4 linked regions of the Homo sapiens genome follow. The protein of the gene in region 3 purifies or fractionates together with the protein of the main gene of each other region. This does not show direct contact. Each region holds a gene or a part of one and is shown on either strand. Other genes may lie near its edges.

The links.
Region 1: the proteins of PABPC1 (region 3) and SYNCRIP fractionate together in Homo sapiens (co-fractionation; 3 studies listed by BioGRID). This does not show direct contact.
Region 2: the proteins of PABPC1 (region 3) and DHX15 fractionate together in Homo sapiens (co-fractionation; 4 studies listed by BioGRID). This does not show direct contact.
Region 4: the proteins of PABPC1 (region 3) and G3BP1 purify together in Homo sapiens (affinity purification with western blotting; 5 studies listed by BioGRID and IntAct, with this or other methods). This does not show direct contact.

What each region holds. Positions count from the first base shown.
Region 1 is NC_000006.12:85,613,476-85,619,222, forward strand, and holds the end of SYNCRIP (heterogeneous nuclear ribonucleoprotein Q), read right to left. Parts: intron 5,465-5,747; coding exon 5,343-5,464; intron 1,873-5,342; coding exon 1,281-1,872; 3' UTR 501-1,280; downstream 1-500. UniProt on the Homo sapiens protein: Heterogenous nuclear ribonucleoprotein (hnRNP) implicated in mRNA processing mechanisms. Component of the CRD-mediated complex that promotes MYC mRNA stability.
Region 2 is NC_000004.12:24,574,456-24,581,791, forward strand, and holds part of DHX15 (ATP-dependent RNA helicase DHX15), read right to left. Parts: intron 2,224-7,336; coding exon 1,788-2,223; intron 1-1,787.
Region 3 is NC_000008.11:100,702,366-100,705,374, reverse strand, and holds the end of PABPC1 (polyadenylate-binding protein 1), read left to right. Parts: intron 1-318; coding exon 319-449; intron 450-984; coding exon 985-1,077; 3' UTR 1,078-1,078; exon of another isoform or gene 1,079-2,015; 3' UTR 2,016-2,459; downstream 2,460-3,009. UniProt on the Homo sapiens protein: Binds the poly(A) tail of mRNA, including that of its own transcript, and regulates processes of mRNA metabolism such as pre-mRNA splicing and mRNA stability.
Region 4 is NC_000005.10:151,809,954-151,813,621, reverse strand, and holds the end of G3BP1 (ras GTPase-activating protein-binding protein 1), read right to left. Parts: 3' UTR 837-3,668; downstream 1-836. UniProt on the Homo sapiens protein: Protein involved in various processes, such as stress granule formation and innate immunity. Plays an essential role in stress granule formation.

The sequences.
Region 1 (5,747 bases), on a different chromosome or scaffold from region 3:
TCACTGTTGACCTAGAGTCTGTCCCCCAAAACTCTAACATTTTCCCATCATTACTGTTAGAAGTATAGACCATATGGCCAAAACAAGACTAAAATGTGAAACAAAAATCCAAACTATTAGATCTTTAATACAAACCAGTCTGTGAGGTAAATTTTATCCTTCAGATATATATTTGCTTACCCAAAACTAACTGTAAAGCTGTTTTATTTTTAATTAGGTAAGTACAGTGATTATTTAGAGTGCAACTCACAAATTACCCAAACCTATTCCCATTGTTTTCACACTAGAGTTTCTTTGCTGCTTTCTAGTCCCATGGTGTGCAAAACAGTCAAGAGGGCAATATACTCAATCTGAGTTTTAGGTTAGTTAGGATAAACTTTAGGCAACTGAAAGTGGACTTGTCAGTGTGACCTGCAAACCCTTTGAGACTACCTGAATTTGTCCTTTTATACAGTTCATTCATCACAATTAAGAACTCTAAAATACTTACCAACTTAAACTTACTACATGTATTATCTTTTTATTTTTGATGGGAACATGAAGTCTGTTGTAAAATAGCACTTTAAACCAGAAGCAGAAAACTGCAATAAATCAGTGTTGTGTAATGTGCAGACATATTCCACACAAGAATTAACAAGGCACAAAACCCTTTAATTGGCCTTGACATGCTATACAATTTGAACCAAATTTGCAGGAAATTTTGTGAAAAACGAATTGTAAACACAATTTTAGTAAGTATACATTTAGGTGTGAATTTTTTATTGAAATAAACAACAGCATAAAGAATACAAGTAGCCAAAATGGTTTTGAAAACCCAAATTAGGTCAAAGTTCTAAATTAAAAATAGCAGTTGTGTATCAATTTACCTTATTCTAGCAATTTAAGTTGGTAACATACAAAGTTATTCTGATACAAGATATTAAAGACACACTTGGTTTTAATCAACTACCTTTGAAGACACCAAATCTAAACACTACTGGAAACATCGTTGACACTACAGCCAAATGGACTTGAGCCAAATTTTCTCAAGCACAAATGCAAACTCATTAACTATTTCTTTCAGTATCTAAGAATATCTTTATTGAAAAAAATTAAAAATAAAATCAGTTCGCCAGAAGCAGTTAGAAGTGTGGCTTTGTTCGTGTCCAAGCGGATTGTTAAAATATATACATAAAGGGAAATCTTGCCAGATGTCACAAATTATAGCGGCACCCGTTCAGATTTAGGGTGAGTTTCTGATCAACCTATCAGTCTCCAATTTTACAGAGGCCCTACTGTTTCTACTTCCACTGTTGCCCAAAAGTATCCTGATAAAACTCCTGGTTTTCAGATTTGTAACCATAGTTACCAGAATGATCACCACCTTGGAGCGGTTGCTGAGCAATGGGTTGGGAGCCCCAGTTCTGATTATTGGTCTGGCGCCGCTTGGAATCTGGCTGGTTGTACCCATCAGCTTTGCGCTTTCCTCCTACATTTCCACCGCGGCCACCCCTCGCACCACGTACCCCGCGGCCTCTTTGTTGTTGGGCACCTCCTCTCGCACCTCGAACGCCTCTTGCTGATCCAGGACCTCCTCTCTGTGAATAACCGGCTCTACCGCGGGGAGGAGCAGCCCCACGACCTCTGGATGGAGCAGCACCCCTTGCTCCTCTACCACCCCTTCCTCTAGCTCCAACTTGAAAATCTTCATAACCATAGTATGGATCTTCATATCCACCACGATAGTTATGGTAATCATAACCATAATAATCATAATAATCTTCATATCCATAATAATCTGGAGGATATCCATAACCACCTCTACCTCCACGCCCTCGACCTCTTGTTGGAGGGGGCATATGAGGTGGACCATAATAGTAGTAATCGTCATACCTATTAAAAAAGAGACAGAGATTAGAGTTTAAATCAAATTACTTAGTTAACAAGTAGGCATTTAGCCATTTGTAACAGTTTAAATCCAGAGTTTACTTCGCATAATTCACATAACTTTAATACAGAATTATTTGTACTAGATTAAGTTTTAGTAGTAGTAATGATCAGAGGATCAGGATGACAATATAGGCATCCCAAAATACCACAAATCTCTAGTTATGAACCTTATTTATTTCTTCATGATCTTCAAAATCTCCCAATAAACCTGTTACAGAATTTTTACAATTGATTTAGCTGTCAAATTTGCCACTTTAGGGCTGGGAGCGGTCATGCCTGTAATCCCAGCTATGCGGGAGGCTGAGTGAAGCAGGTGAATCGCTTGAACCCAGGTGGCGGAGGCTGCAGTAAGCCAAGGTCACATCACTGCACTCCAGCCTGGGTGACAGAGCGAGACTCTGACTCAAAAAAAAATTTGTCACTTTGAATTGCATTTCTGCTAAGATTCTATTCCAATATACTTGAAGAACATTTATTACAAAAGCAAAATGGCAAGTAGGACAAGCACACAACCAAAATGTGTGAAGTTCAAAGTTTACTACAGTAAATTAGCATAAAGACCTTAAAGTTTTCCTGTTTCTACAATAATGCTATCCAAGTAAAATTTAAAAGATCTGCTACTTTCCCAAAAATAAACTACACCGTAACTATAGTGCTGAACTTTAACCACTAAACAGGTATAACTTTAGTTGTCAAAGTGATTAGAAAGCAACCACACAAATCAGCATATGCTTACATACTATGTAAAAGGACTAAACGAAGTTACAATATTCCAACTCATGTTCCCTACAGTACAATTTTATACAATTCCTTAAAACTTAGTGATTATTTTGAGCCCAATAATCCCATGAAATATGGAAATTAATCCCTCTTGAAGGAATAATTTACTCGTGTTTTTTATTCCGTACCTGTTATGTTATTTTATTTATTTATTTATTTGAGACACAGTCTTGCTCTGTCACCCAGGCTGCAATGCAGTGGCGCAATCTCACCTCACTGCAACCTCCACCTCCTGGGTTCAAGTGATTCTCCTGCCACAGCCTCTCGAGTAGCTGGGACTATAGGCATGTGCCACCATACCTAGCCAATTTTTATTTTTAGTAGAGATGGGGTTTCACCATGTTGGCCAGGCTGGTCTCGAACTCCTAACCTCGAATGATCCACCCACCTCGGCCTAGAGTGATCTGCCCACCTCAGCCTCCCAAAGTGGTGGGATTACAGGCATGAGCCACCACGCCCGGCCTTATTTTATCCTGAATTATTAAAGGCCCCTGTTCCAACTGACTAACGTAAAAATGTTATTCCGGTTCACTAGGTCCTTAGACCTTTTATGTGCTCTGCTGGTTTATTGTTTTGAGGAAATGATGGAAAGATCATCCTTTTCTATTTCTAAATAGTTCTCACCAGGGATAATTTTGCCACCACCTCTTTCCAGGGGGACATTTTAGACGGTCATAACTGAGAAAGGGGGTGCTACTGGCATCTAGCAGGAAGAGGCCAAGGATGCTGCTAAAAGTCCTACAACGCACAGGGCAGCCCCCAAGACCAAGAATTATCCAGCCCAAAATGTCAGGAGGACAGAGATGAGAAATCCTGGTATAGTGGTTAAGAGGGAAAATTATGGGAGACTAGACTACCTTAGTTCAAATCCAACTCCACTACTTACTATGTGAATGACCCCAAGGAAGTTGACTTCTGAGCCTCAGTTTCCTCATTTCAAACTAAGGGATAGAGTACCTAACTCACAGGAATACAGTGAGAATTATGTAGGAATACGTGCTTAGTTAAAACTTAAAAAAAAAAAAAAAAAGACTGTAGCAAGTTAAAGTACGAAAGTAACATGCAATCATCCCTTTTAGTTTGTACTCCTTTTCAAATATTAACAGATATACTGACATCCTCCACCTTCTATTTAGTATCTCCCTCTATCAAGTACCAAATGTAACTGCTCTAATCACATTATCTAATATAATCTCCTATACTTACATTCTACTTTAATAAATTAACCATATATCGTCTTCTGAAAGAAATAAAAAGAAGTTATTTTACACTGTTTAGTATATCCAGGTGTTTGAAATATAGAGCATTAAAACTAACTCTTTTTGTAGTCTTCCTTCATTTACACTATCATCAAACCTACAAAGTATATTTTCTTTGGTCCCAGAACAAGCATGGGTCACTTGGATAATCACATAATCCAGAGCTATTACATAATTTTGTCTGATCCCATTTTAGAACTGAAGAAATTGAGGTTCAGAGCTTGCCAACTTGTCCAACTGGACAATTAACTGCAGAAACTAGAACTTGATCAATTCCCTGATTATGAAGTAACAGAAATATGTAGAAGCATCCTCTTCCTTTAAATTCCAAACAGGGCAATCAACAGAAAATTAACCTTGAATAGTATTGACAGTGATTATTGCTCTCACATTCAAGAACAATTACCCCTCTTCTAGGAAATCAGTAACTAACTTTTTAGGAGCTAACTTCAATTCTTACCCAACTAAGTTTCCTTCAGTCTTAAGCAGATACCTATTTACAGATTCTCTAAAAAGGTCTCCCTAATTAGTATAACTCATTACACACCTACTTGTTTTCTTATTGCACTACTGTGTTATAATTTTAATACTCATTTCATTTTCAAAATCCATCCATCGAACATGAAATTTTTGGGGTGGCAATGAGCACTACTGGTGAAGAAACAGTCTATCATGAATAGAGATTTAGTATTTCCTATCTCTCAGAGAAAAAACTCTCCACCCTTTAACAAAATGTATTAAGATATTTGGACAGCTAATATTTAAGACATTTTCAGAAGAACATTCTGTAAAATACAAAGAAAATATGTGAGATAGGCCAGGCATGGTGGCTCACAGCTGTAATCCCAGCACTTTGGGAGGCAGAGGTGGGCGGATCACCTGAGGTCAGGAGTTTGAGACCAACCTGGCCAACATGACGAAACCCCACCCCTACTAAAAAAAAAAACACAAAAATTACCAGGCATGGTGGCGCCTGTAACCCAGCTACTCAGAAGACTGAGGCAGGAGAATCTCTTGAACCCGGGAGGTGGAGGTTCCAGTGAGCCGAAAGAGTGCCACTGCACTCCAGCCTGAGTGACAAAGTGAGACTCTGTCACCCAATACAAAACAAAAAAAAAGCTAGACAGATTTTTCATCTTGCCAATTTACCAAAATTCCAGTTATTTACAATTCTGATTATTTTCACAAATATGGTTCATAGTAAGAGTTCAATAAACACTTAGATCACTGGTGTTTCCCTATGACTCTCAAACGTTCAAGTCTTCTTTAAAGAGATGTTATGCATTTAACAAGTCTGATCAACACCTGTTATTTTCCAATTAGTGTATAAATATTAAAATTTATACAATTTTTAAGTATACAAATTTCACTCACATTTGATTTTTTGCTGCTTGCCTCTGAGCTTTTCTTTCTTTCCTTTTCTGATCTGGTGGCTTGGCAAAAACAATTTCAATATTTTCTCCCTCCAAGTCTTTGCCATTCATTTCTTCCATAGCCTTAAAAAATTAGATAAGTCAATATAAAAATAGGACTTTCATACAATTATGATTCATTTAAAGTTGGAATATCATTTATCATTAATGTGGGAAGGACAAGAGAAAGCCCCATGCAGGCAGTCAAATAATTTTATTTAAAGATGCAGATATTCAATTATTTTTCATTTTTACTTAGAAAACTGCCAACATCACTAAAACCAAAAGGTTTTAGTTTGAATGGATTCCATGGACTTCCAAAGTCTCCTCCAATTTGTAAAACTATTTTGAGATTCTAAAATGACTA
Region 2 (7,336 bases), on a different chromosome or scaffold from region 3:
AATCCAAATAATCACAAACCTCATCTTGAGTTGACCTGACCTCCTTCTACACTAACCATTAATAAACTCATCTCTGAAATGAGGCTACCCATAATCAGACCACAGAATAGCAGTATGAAATATAAAACTTTAGATATAAAGACAAAAGGTACAAAGTTTTAAATATTGAGCCCACCAAAATCCATAATCCATGTAACCCAGGACAATCCACTAAACCTAAGTTTCTCATAAACTTAAACCTCATTTTGCTCATCTGTAAAGTGGTGATGAATATCTTCCTGCAGGGTTATAGAAAAACGTAAATGAGCTAATACATGTAAAGTATACAGTGTCTGGCTTTACCCAAATATCAATTAAATAGTAAGTTCAGAGTTACAGTCTTTCTTGTAGTTTGAAAATTCTTAAAATTTCCGTAAGGTGATTTTTGAATACCCTAACATCAATTCTAAGTTTTCCTTCATTAAAAAAGAAAAATTGGCAAGGCTAAGGCAGGAGGATTGCTTTAGCTCAGGAGTTCAAAACCTCAACTCTACAAAAATTTTATTTAAAAATTAGCCAGGCACTGGTGGCATATGCCTGTGATCCCAGCTACTTGGGAGGCTGAGGCAGGAGGATCGCTTCAGCTCAGGAGGTTGACGCTGTGTTCATACCACTGCACTCCAGCATGGGTGAAAGACTGTCTCAACAACAACACAAAAATTAAAAAAAAAAAAAAGAAAAGAAAAGAAGAATGGTACTAAGGCTCAGTCTATAATAAAAGCTTCCTATTTTGGTTGCTACAGTACCTTCAAAATGTCTCCATGCACATGTAACTTTAGAAAAAGATAAATTGTGTATGCGGTATGTTCAATCTCTGCATGGTAAGACAGGTAATTCACTTCAATACTTTCCTGAATTTTTCAAAGTTTCTACAATGATCAGGGACTGCTACTTTTGAAACCAGAAATTTTTAATTGATGGTTCAGGCTTAAGTGTATAAAGACAGTTACTTCTCACCCACAGCAAGAAAATGCAAATTAAAAAGTACATTAGAATGCAATTTTTCACCTATTGGATTTGTAAAAATTCACGTTTTAATAGTTTCCCACGTGTTCTCCTACATGCTCATGGAAAGGTAAATTGATACGCTCCCTCTGGAAGGCTATCCAGCTTTCTGTATCACAATTACAAATGATCTTCTGACCCAGCAATTTCTGCTTCCTACAGAAACACTTGACCCATGCAAAACAACCATGGGAAACAGTCTAAATGTCTATCAACAGGGGTCTAGTTAATAATAGCCCATCCATGTTTAAAAAATATCCTAGCTATATTACAAATAACACACTAGTAACAGTGTTTAGTTCTATGGGAGGGAGGACGACTAGATGGACAAAAGTCACCGGTATAGACTTTATATTACTTTGGCATTTCATTTTTTGCATGGTTCAAAATACCATATTAAATACAAACGACAAAAATCTACCCCAGTGATTTCTCCACCCAAGTACCAGAAAACAAACTGTGGGTCCCTAAATCTGTACTGTCCGGGAGTCAAAATACCTCTGCCATACATAAGGTAACAAAATTTGAAAAGCGAGCACCACTATTTTCCCCTAGATTCAGGGGAGAGGTATTCTCTATAGGATTTCCACTCTGAAATTCAGAGTGCCAATTAAACATCAAATCAGCTATTCTTCAAGATGTTCTATAGGACAGACAAGGGAAATGACCACCAGAATCAAATATGCAACATTTGGTAAACTTAAACATAAATGAAATATGTACCATGGTATACAATAACTCACCTGTGTTGTTTTACCAGACCCAGTCTCACCAACCAGTACAAAGGACTGATGTCTAACCAGAATATCTGTAAACCTATCCTTGTATTCCCAAACAGGGAGCTGAAGACGTTTCTTTAGAATATCATAGTATCGAGGAGTATGGGGTAAGTTGGTGAACGGATTAATGCACTGTGGAAGTGACGTGTGACCTGCATGTCCGGCATGCGTTGAATGAGCAGAATGTGTTGAATGCGTTGAATGTGCTGAGTGGGTTGAGTGAGCTGAATGGGAAGCTTTCAAAGGTGGTAATCCAGCACTGATAAGCATAGCATTTGTTGAAGCTCGCAACTCCTTCTCCTTTTCTTTCTCCCTCTCTCGCTCTCTATCTCCTCTATCACGTTCTCGGTCTCGATCTTTAGACCGATCTTCACGATCCCGGTCTCGATCTCGATCCTTCCTAAAAACAAAAATTTAGAATTCAGATTCTGAATTTTATGCAGAATGTTCACGGTAGCGTTATAATCACAAAGAGAGTAAATGTCCAACGTTCAAATGAATAAAAAGTCCAATGGATTATGTAACTATCAGAAATAATAAAAAATACCCTACAATCAAGGGTTTCCCATTCTCCACCACAAACATCTTTCCCTTCCTTGCTGATGCCCCACCTTCCTTAACTTTTAACATTAGGTGAGGTAACACAAGAACTCAGTCTGCTGCAAGTAAAACCCCTCCTACTTAGACAACAGAAATCAGATACTGAGGGTAGGATGAAGAAAGGATAGGTCCAAATTGAGTAAAAGAAGATGGCATCTCAATCTTTCTCAAATTCTCCTTCAATTTGTGAAGAGGTATTTTGTGCACTAAAAGTATATTCAGAAGTTAGCACAAACACTGCTACTGGAGATAAAGACAACTCCACCTCACATCATTACAGTCAACAGTGGTGGGTTTTGCTCAATACTTTTATAATCCACTTCTAATAAATTACTTTAATATTCCTTTCTTTGCCATAGGACGATGTTCGGTTGTAATGCAAAGTGAAAAGAGCATAGTACAATGTTATACCTGTCAATATCTCAACTAATACAAATACGAATTACAGGACTGCAGAATTTGTTTTCTTAGTTATACTTTCCAGCACTTTCCCAATTTTGTTCAGTAAATGTATATTGCTTTATTAAAAAAACTGAAATTAAAACTTTTATTCCTTCTTGCTTGTTTACTCTTGCATTTTAACCTAAACAGCAACAGCAAAACACTGAAAGCACTCTATAAATCTATGTACCTTGGTCTACCATAAAATGAAACATAGCCAAATTAAAAATAAGCTTTGCTAAACACTATTAAGTTGTTTAACATGTTAAAATTATGCAGGTAGCCACTCTATTAAACCTGGGTCAATTTTAAGTAGTCAATGCTGGTATCTACTTCCAGTTACTAGAGATTGACCTTAATAAGTCATTTTAAAAGTATCTATGCTAAGAACTTCACAAGCAGAATGGCTGCAGGTTGTTCATATGCGTTGTGGCTGAAAGCAGCCTCTGGGAGACTGGTGGTGGGAATAAAATAAAATAATCTATGCTTGTTCATTTTACTAATCCAGTTTACTTCAGACCAAGTCCATCAGCAGAGAAATTTGCCTCAAGATCTTTAAACCCAGACTTGAAATAATGAGACATGACGGAGCTATGACACAAGCCCCGAAACATGTCATTGTTCCTTACCCACAATACACAAAAGTACAAATTCCCTGTGCTCCAAGTGCAGTTGTGTGACATGTACAAATTTACTCAAAAAGGGGAAAAGCCATATATATGCATATATAAACATGAAAAGTGATTTTCCCCTCTTCCATCCCAATGTTCACCTTCTACAAAAATCACAGAGCATACAAGCCAGAACTGTATGAAGCCTCTCATTTCACCTGGCATAAACAGAAAGAAAATCAATGGGAAAGAAAAGTCAAAGGATAACTTAATAAACATAAAATGAAGTCTCACAATTCAATACTTGAGAGTCTGGACCTATCTTCTGAAATATGCCATCAACTATCTTTGCTTCTCCTGCTTCTGGCCTAAGGTGACTGTTAATTAAGTGTTTACATTGCTCCAAAATGCCAACGAGGTGTAGTTTATAATAAGAGTACACAGAAATGTGCCCAGCAAAGTAAGAAGCACTGTACTCACAAATGGTTCAAATACTTGACACCTTAAAGATCATGGATCATACAGCTAGAAAAGAACTCTTAAAGAACATCTGGTCTGAACAAAAAGGATTCATGTTTCTAGTATTCACTCAACCATGGGGGAAGGAGGAGATGACAAAAAATATAATTGAAACAACTTCCTTTTTTTTGAGATAGGATCTTGCTCCATTACCCGGGTTGGAGTGCAGTGGCTCACTGGATCATGGCTCACTGCAATATCAAACTTCTGGGTTCAAGTGGTCCTCTCACCTCAGCCTCCCGAGTAACTGGGACTACAGGCATGCACCACCACGCCTCGCTAATTTCTTATTTTTGTAGAGATAAGGGTCTCACCATGTTGCCCAGGATGGTTTTCAACTCCTGGGATCAAGCAATCTCTTGCTTCAGCCTCCCAACGTGCTGGGATTACCGATGAGCTACCATGCCCAGCCTAGTTTAATGATTTCTATACTTCTAGCATAGTACCAGGCAATTAAGACATGGTCAAGAGTTACAAAATTTGGGGGAAGAGAGGTGACAAAGTAAATCATGTATTATATATTGCCTTAGTTTGTTAAAGTAATACCTATACTAACAAAGATTTTTTCAGGGGCCCACTTCATCAGATGCTTCATTACCAAACCAAACAAAGGATGTATAAAATACATTCTAAAGATAAAAGGTTAGCTGCTGATCAAGCAATGGCGACAGCTGTGGTATTAAGATAAAAGGAATGCTGGAATCACCATTGCAAGACACTGCCTCAATTTACTGATCTGCAAAATGAAGAGCATTTTCAGATACTTTTAGTCTCAGATTAAAGTAAGAAAACAGGGAGGATGCAGGAGGCAAATTCAGACACCTGGAAATGTTGCTTATGGCTCAAACTACCTTCCTTCGATGAGAGAGGGAGTACAAATGAAAGGTGAGTAAAAGGGGAAAATCAAACCCTCCACTTCATAAATATTTGTCAACTATTGTGCACATGCGTGTTTTCTTTTTTAAAAGATACTTTTTATTATAAAGGAGTTTTGTTCTTAAAAGTTTACTAGTTGAAGTATAAGGGTTTTTAAAAACTGGTATCAAGTCAGTGCTTCAGACACAGCCACACCACGAGCAGGGAGGGAGGTATGACATGACACAGTTGTTGAACATACTGCTCTGTACTGTGTCTCAGTTCAATCTTGGCTCAAGACTTAAGCCAACTATAGGATCACAGTTATTTCTTCCCTCACCTATAAGATGTGGCTATCAATATGTTTTGTAGAGTATAGATAGGATTAAATGAGTTAATATATGTGATGTGCTTTAAGTGTTGTCTGGCACATTGCAAATGCCCAATATCGGTTGTTGTTGTTATTATTACTATTATTTTGAGACGGAGTCTTGCTCTGTCACCAGGCTGGAGTGCAGTGGTGCAATCTCAGCTCACTGCAACCTCTGCCTCCCTGTTTCAAGCGATTCTCCTGCCTCAGCCTCCAGAGTAGCTGGGACTACAGGCACATGCTGCCACACCCAGTTAATTTTTGTATTTTTAGTAGAGACGAGGTTTCACCATGTTGGCCAGGATGGTTTCAATCTCTTGACCTCATGATCTGACTGCCTCGGCCTCCCAAAGTGCTGGGATTACTGGCATGAGCCACCGCGCCCCACCAATATTGGTTATTATTAAAGATCTTTTTAAGTTCTAATACCATGTTAAAATTCTACATGGAGGGCAAGACCTAGTGACTCACGCATGTAATCCCAGTGCTTTGGGAGGCCCAAGTGGGAGGATCACCAGAGGCCAAAAGTTTGAGACCAGCCTGAGCAATACAGTGAGACCCCATCTCTACAAAAAAATTTTAAACTTAGCTAGGTGGGGTGGCACGCCTGTAGTCCCAGCTACCTGGGAGGCTGAGACGGGAAGATCACTTGAGCCCTGGAATTTGAGACTGCAGTGAGCCATGATCACACCAGTGCACTCCAGCCTGGGAAACAGAGGAAGACCCTGTCTCTAAAAAATAAAAAAATTCTACATGGAATAATAACAGGCACTGAAGTACTGCTAAGGAAGACATTAACTGGTCATCAAAATCATGATATTTTAAATAAGCATTGCTTTTTTTTTTTTTTTTTAAAGACAGTCTACCTCTGTTACCCAGGCTGGAGTGTAGTGGTGCAATCTCGACTCACTGCAACCTCTGCCTCCCAGGTTCAAGCAATTCTCCTGCCTCAGCCTCCGGAGTAAGTAGCTGGGATTACAGCAGTGCGCCACCATGCCCAGTGTATTTTTGTATTTTTAACAGAGACAAAAATAGGTTTTATTACCTTGGCCAGGCTGGTCTTGAACTCCTGACCTCAGGTGATCCATTCGCCTAGGCCTCCCAAAGTGCTGTGATTACAGGTGTGAGCCATCACACCCGGCAATAAGCACTGCTTTTTATCCGTCAATCTTATTTCCAGGAACCTCTCAAGGATGTGTGCAAATACGTATGTATAAGGATGTTCATCAAACTTCTCATTTATAAAATAGCAACAAGTGGAAAACTACCTAAATATCAATGAACAGGATATTGGTTAAATAAGTGATGTCATACCTTTACAACTGGAGTACTATGGCAGTCAATCTATTTATTTTTTATTATTTTTTTTTTTTTGAGATGGAGGCTCGCTCTGTTGCCCAGGCTGGAGTGCAGTGGCACAATCTCGGCTCACTGCAAGCTCCGCCTCCCGGGTTCATACCATTCTTCCTCAGCCTCCCAGAGTAGCTGGGACTACAGGTGCCCGCCACCACACCCGGCTAATTTTTTGTATTTTTAGTAGAGACAGGGTTTCACCGTGTTAGCCAGGATGGTCTTGATCTCCTGACCTCGTGATCCACCCGCCTCGGCCTCCCAAAGTGCTGGGATTACAGGCGTGAGCCATTGCGCCCGGCCTATGGCAGCCAATTTAAAAGCGTAATGTGTACCTACAGTTAATGACATTTCTGAGTGGAAAAAAAAATCAAAGTACAAAATAACACGCGTTGATCCCACTGATATTAAATTTTATAGTTCATATTTTTGAGTCAATATGCAGAGATCTTAGAAAATGTTCACCAAAAACTGTTATCCAAAGATGGAGATGAAGATTTTAGGGAATGCCTTCTTTAAACCTTTGAGTATAAACATTTCTTATGTTCCCTGTGGCAAGTTCATTTAACCTCATCTACCATACAGGATTGTAGTGAAAATGTGCATGCTCCACAAATGTTATCACAGTATTAATACATTAGCTTTACTTTCCCATAATTAACAGAAAAAACTCTTATCAGGTGGTAATATCAAAAACCAACATCAAAATGAAAAACGCCCCTAACATCGAAAACTTTTTTCCATACTTCAACAGTAAGTATGGAAAA
Region 3 (3,009 bases):
TCACCATGGGCCCTCACTACATTTTTGAGAGAAGGAATTTGAAGCAAATGAGAAGAAAACTTGTGACTTTGCCTGAACACCGATTTAACAACCTAATGGTAACATTGCTTAATTGGCAAGCTGATAATATCAAGAGTTAATTGCCTTGTGGCAGATTTTATTCTGTCTTCCCATGAAGACATAATGAAATTGTGGATTATGGGTTATTATATACGTGAGACAGAAGTATGGTTCTTAAACCCCAGTTTAATGTGGTAATTCAATGCAGTTAAAAACTTTTTTTTATTGAAGGGAGTTTTTGAATGTTTCTGTTCCTAGGTGAACGGCTGTTTCCTCTTATTCAAGCCATGCACCCTACTCTTGCTGGTAAAATCACTGGCATGTTGTTGGAGATTGATAATTCAGAACTTCTTCATATGCTCGAGTCTCCAGAGTCACTCCGTTCTAAGGTGATTTAAATTTATTTACCAAGTTGCCTCTTACACAGTTATTACGTGGCTTTTTATGGGGACTTAATTGTACAGAACACTTACATCGTGTTATATATAAGCCATGTACAGTTGTAAAGTCTGCATAATAACCTGTGGCGCTATTTATCCCCATTTTATAGATAGGTAAACTGAAACAGGCTGAATAATTTGCCAAATGCTCACACAGCTCTTAAGTGGCAGAGCCTGGCTTCAAATCCCATCAGCTCCAACAGCCATACTCTCAACTGCTGCTGCTTTCTCTAGTGGAGAAAGAGAAATATTTTTCGAGTGTGGGGAGGACAAGGAAAGAGTAGTGCAGGGGAGCGATTCATAATTCTAGAATAGTGGTGTAATAGAACTCAAAATTGAATGGATATAGTTGTTTAGTGTAACAATTTATACTTTCATTTGAGGGAAGAAACTTATCTTTGTTGGGAATTGGTATGTTACCATTATGAAACTCTTTATTTCCATTCCTTTCCTGAACCAGTTTATCTGTTTTCCCCTTTTTTAGGTTGATGAAGCTGTAGCTGTACTACAAGCCCACCAAGCTAAAGAGGCTGCCCAGAAAGCAGTTAACAGTGCCACCGGTGTTCCAACTGTTTAAAGTGAGCTTTTCCCTCTGGTTTGTTGTTTTAAGCTTGTTTTCTTCATCTTTTATAAAGTTTGTTGAGCATATTTTGAAATGTACATAGCAAAAGATCATTTTACAGTTCATTTAAATGTATTGCTAATTTTTCAAGGAAAAGTGGAACTAACTATAGAGGAATTAAAGGAATTTTACCCGTTAACTGTTGGATTTTTAAAATCCCAGGACTTTCAGGTGGTGTTTTTTTTTTTTTTTTTTTTTGAGATGGAGTTTCGTTCTGTCGCCCAACCTGGAGTGCATTGACGCGATCTCGGCTCACTGCAACCTCCACCTCCCAGGTTCAAGCAATTCTCCTGCCTCGGCCTCCCGAGCAGCTGGGATTAACAGGCCCATGCCTGCCACCGTGCCCAGCTAATTTTTGTATTTTTACTAGACTTGGGGTTTTGCCATGTTGGCCAGGCTGGTCTGGAACTTCTGACCTCAAGTGATCCGCCCACCTCGGCCTCCCAAAGTCTTGAAATTACAGGCGTGAGCCACTGCGCCCTGCCAGATTTTGTATAGTAATATATATATAAAATGACCTGTCACAGGTTGGCTTTCATAGTTTTACCTTTCCTTTTTGGGTGGTGCCCTTGGGTCTCTACTACTGTCTTTCATCACTCCCAAGAAATTGAGTAGTGCAGCCAGGATCAGGACCAGGGATTGGCAAATGTTTTTTGTAAAGGGCCAGATAGGAAATATTTTGGGCTTTGAGGACTGTGTTATCTCTGAAATGATCTTGTTCCAGTGTTACCATGTCAAGACAACCATAGATAGTATGTATACAAATGAACAGGTATGGCTGTGTTCCAGTAAAACTATGGATAAAAACAACCACATTGCATTTGGCTAAGGGCTTTAATTTGCTACTGACAAGTGATAGTCCTGGTCTTAATTTGTTTTTTTAACATTTACAGATTGATCAGGGACCATGAAAAGAAACTTGTGCTTCACCGAAGAAAAATATCTAAACATCGAAAAACTTAAATATTATGGAAAAAAAACATTGCAAAATATAAAATAAATAAAAAAAGGAAAGGAAACTTTGAACCTTATGTACCGAGCAAATGCCAGGTCTAGCAAACATAATGCTAGTCCTAGATTACTTATTGATTTAAAAACAAAAAAACACAAAAAAATAGTAAAATATAAAAACAAATTAATGTTTTATAGACCCTGGGAAAAAGAATTTTCAGCAAAGTACAAAAATTTAAAGCATTCCTTTCTTTAATTTTGTAATTCTTTACTGTGGAATAGCTCAGAATGTCAGTTCTGTTTTAAGTAACAGAATTGATAACTGAGCAAGGAAACGTAATTTGGATTATAAAATTCTTGCTTTAATAAAAATTCCTTAAACAGTGCACGGATTTGCTTTTTTTCAAAGTCTTTATAATTGCCATGCATAAATAGGTAATATCTTAATGGTGCTGAGCCGACATAAGAATCTTTTATGAAAAATGTACTGTTAAGTTCAGGGGGTCTATTGGTTTTATGTAAAAGGCACAAGACAATTCCTGTAGTGCATTTTATGAGTTAAGGTTTCCATACGGATTATTGAAACAATTTGTTACATGTATTTGTTACATGATCTTAATATTTCATGTACAAGACTGACACCCATCCACTTTTGAAGATAAGCCAGTTTATGGGGTTTTTTTTTTTGCGGGTAGAGGTTGGGTCTCCCTATTTTGTCCAGGCTGGTCTCGAATTCCTGGGCTCAAGCATAAGCATAAGGCTTATTCCTGCATAAGCCACCATGCCTGGCCTGCCAGTTGATGATTATATTGAGGTTTCTAGGCTATGAGATTATTAGCTTAAACCCTTACATGATATAAAACAATGATAGCTACTCTTGAAGAGGATGTAGATAAGATAGGCTTTGGTATGATTTTAATATTAAAGTGTTAAAAG
Region 4 (3,668 bases), on a different chromosome or scaffold from region 3:
CCTGAATGGTATAGAAAAGGCTAAAAAATTGAGTTCCCACAAGGTACTTCAGAGCATTTTAAATTCATACTTCTTCATATTTTAGTAGTTCAATCTTCCAATACTTAAGCCATTATATTTTCAGCACTAACAACAGTTAAAATGATATAAGTAAATTAAATCCCAAACAGGTCCCACCTGCTTAGTATACTGAATGGATCTAGACAAAATACCTACTCAATGTGATTTTTGTGCTTATTAGACAGAAGGTTAGTGCAATGTTTAAAAAAAAAGAAAAAACAGCTTGAGTTCTACTTTCAAAACAAACATAGCAGGGACCTCAGTGGTCTCCAAGTACATCTGACAAACTGGATAAAACATGTCTTCAACTGCTTTGGACTTGAAATGGACAAAGTGAAACACAAAATGACCAAAACAAAAACCTAATACTTTTAAGCCCTCTTGATATTCCAAGACTGCCAAAGGCTATTCCACTCTCATTGTCTAGATCAGCATCACAGTAGACCTGTTGAATAAAAATCACCTTATCTAGAATTGATGCAAGTTACTGCAATGAATAACTTGTAGTACATTTAGGGTGAAGAGTGGCTGGTGCATGATTAGAATACTCAGTGACTGTTAACTTGGCAAGTGTTCAAACATACCACAGTGCTTCCAAATCACAAATCACTTGGTCCTCTCTCCCAGGACAGGCCACTTACGGAGACCTTATTCTCAAACTTGACTGGCCTAGGGAAGCTATAGAAAGAGACCAAATTACCTTGCAGCCATAGCTGTGAACACACTGGAGCCATACTTGAAAACTGGCGATGAACAGGACAACAGAGAGATACCAATTCATTGCTAAAACATTCCAAAATGAGTTTATTACAAAATAAATGCACAGTCACTGGAGGAAGGGGTTATTTTATTTATACACTCGATCTTAGATTTAGCAACCTTTCATTTTGACTCAGGATTCATTGACTAACTTAAGATGGGCTAGTTTCTGCCAACAGGGCAAGAGTGTGCAATCTCAGAGTCCCACCCAACCTGGCCAAAGCAAATGACTTCTGCATTAATTAGAAGTCATCCCCAAAGGACTTGCCCTTCATGTTTTCCCCATTTTGCCCGCTTAGATACTTGCACAAAAGATGCACCCTTTGTCTTTAAAGTTCCCTAGTTCGATGTTTAGGCAGAAGAGCAAATCCCAGGTTATTATTCTGCAAATAATTTTACATTTCCTTTATTCCAAAAATGTAGCTACCAACTTAAATGTATCATGACACACAAGGGGTAAAAGTTAGATACGAACTTCCAATAGCTAGGGCATGTTTCCTGAAACACTATCGTTCATTAGTACATTATTCAAGAAGTTACCTTAACCCCAAAGAATCTAAGAAGGGCACTGTGTAATTCTTCAGGTCACAATGCCAGCATGACTGTGGAGTCTGTTACAGGTAAGACAATCACAAGTTACAATGCTGTGATTCCAAATACTTTGGGGATGTAGAAAATGTGCTTAGCTGGGCAGCATGAATTAGCTCAGCAACATAGTGCTATGATGGAAGAGGTTCAAGATGATTCATACTTTCACGCCAGACCAGAAGTCACAAGCTCACATAGCGGCAACTCTGACAGCTAGCCAAAGTAGAAGATACTTCTAAAAAGCAGCCTGGGGACATTTTAATTAATTGGCCTGGAAAATCAGGTCAGAATTACAAAGTTCCTCATCCTTATGAAGAAGAAAATGTGATAGTATGTCTTTTATATGGAAATTTCTTTGTATATATGTATAAACTTGGTATGGCCTTAATGCTGCAGTTAAGGATTTGTCTGGCTACCACCTTAAGCAGCGTGTTAAGCAATCGCTTCCTTAATGTAACATTTTTACTTCTTACTGGACACTCAACCTTGAACAACTAATTCCCTTTTGCCCCTTACTCTTCCCCCCTTTTTTTGCATGAAGTCACAAAAGTTATGGCAGTTATTTTTTGGCTTGTAAAAAAAAAAAATCTATTTCTGCAGTTTGAAGATGGAATGTAAAATTTCTGTGAAACATGTATATAAAAGTATATTTATTGAACCATCCATATACACATATCCATGCTGATTCCAATGGAAAAAAATTAAAGTTTTCTGAAATTTTCTGTGGTTAACTCATAATTATTACTATTTAACCAACTTTATATGCAAGAACTTCCAATTACCCCAGGGAGAAACCTATGTATGACCTGGAAAACATCTCACTTTAGACAAGGCTTTATGTCGAGAAATGAGAATTCATTTGTTCATTCAAGAAGTATTTATTGATAGGTGCTAGGCAAGATACAAAGATGACTCAGACACAGATCCTGCCCATAAGGAGCTTACAGTCTAATAGGGGAGAGAGAACACATACATGGAATACATGGTCAGAACTATGTTTCAGTAAGATGAATCTAACATTGTGTATAAAGTAGGCTGGAGTAAGAGGTTAAGTGAAGCTGAGAGACTACTGAAATTACATAGGTGAGGAAGAAAGACGGGAAAGACTTGAGGTAGAACTGACAGGACTTAGCTGAAGACTGGATGTGGGGAATAACAAAAATGGAAGCAGATGACTCAGACTTTAGCATGGATGATGTCATGAACTGAAAGAAGGAACAAGTTTTTGCAAAGAAATGAAAATTTCATATAAAATTCTTCTGCATAGAAACAAACTGTCTGGGATATACTAGGCACAATCAGGAAGAAATGGCTAGTTACCCAGACCAATGGAAGCACCTCAAACTGGCCAGTGACTTCCTCCCCCTTATATATCCATCCCCCCAAATTTCCCAACAATTTTCTCCACTGAAATGGTATAGTGCCTAAAATTTATTAAATTCAAGGTCTATCTCCAGACATGGCCTCCCTTGGGAATGAAAACAGAAATATATTAAGTTATTCAACTCAGTAAGTTTCATCTAAAGACTCTAGTTATGAGTCACTGTACCTTCTGGTGGAATACAGAGATGAACTCCCTAGTCCTTATCTTCTAGGAGCTTACAGTCTAGTAAAGTAGTAAAACAGATAATGTAATTCTAATTCTAGACTGAAGGGGTAAGTTATGAACTACGAGAAAGACAAAGTGCTCTAGAACAGTTTCAGAAATGAAGGTTGGAACAGGACCTCAAACAAGAGGGAAAATGTGGAAAGTAGATGAGAATGGATTTGTTCCTCACTCCAAATTCTGGACAGATCAGCCCCAAAACGGGGCTACTCCCCATTCCTGTTGAAATTTTTTCTTAGGAAAAAATATAGCTCTTGTACTGATCTTTTAAAAAATTACTTACATGGCAAGAGATCAGAGGAAAGGGGGGATTGTAGATCTCAGTGGACCTTCGGGGAAGACAGAAGGCACTTGAAGCCAAGGAATCACAATGCCTGGCTTATCGGGAGGACCCTCAGTGTTTTAGCAAGGCTGGAGCATCACTTCCATGAAGAGTGGGAGAAATAACTCAAAAGTAATATTAAGACCTTGATATAAACATGGCATTGCCAGGCACTAAACAGGGTACACGCCTAAGACCAAATTGCTGCCCCCTAGGAGCTTACAGTTACAACAATACAAGGTGGAAAAAGCACCACAATGTACAGAATGCAAAATGCTGAAGTATTTAGGAGAAATTACAGCTGAGTTTCAGCTATTAACACATTAGGATACC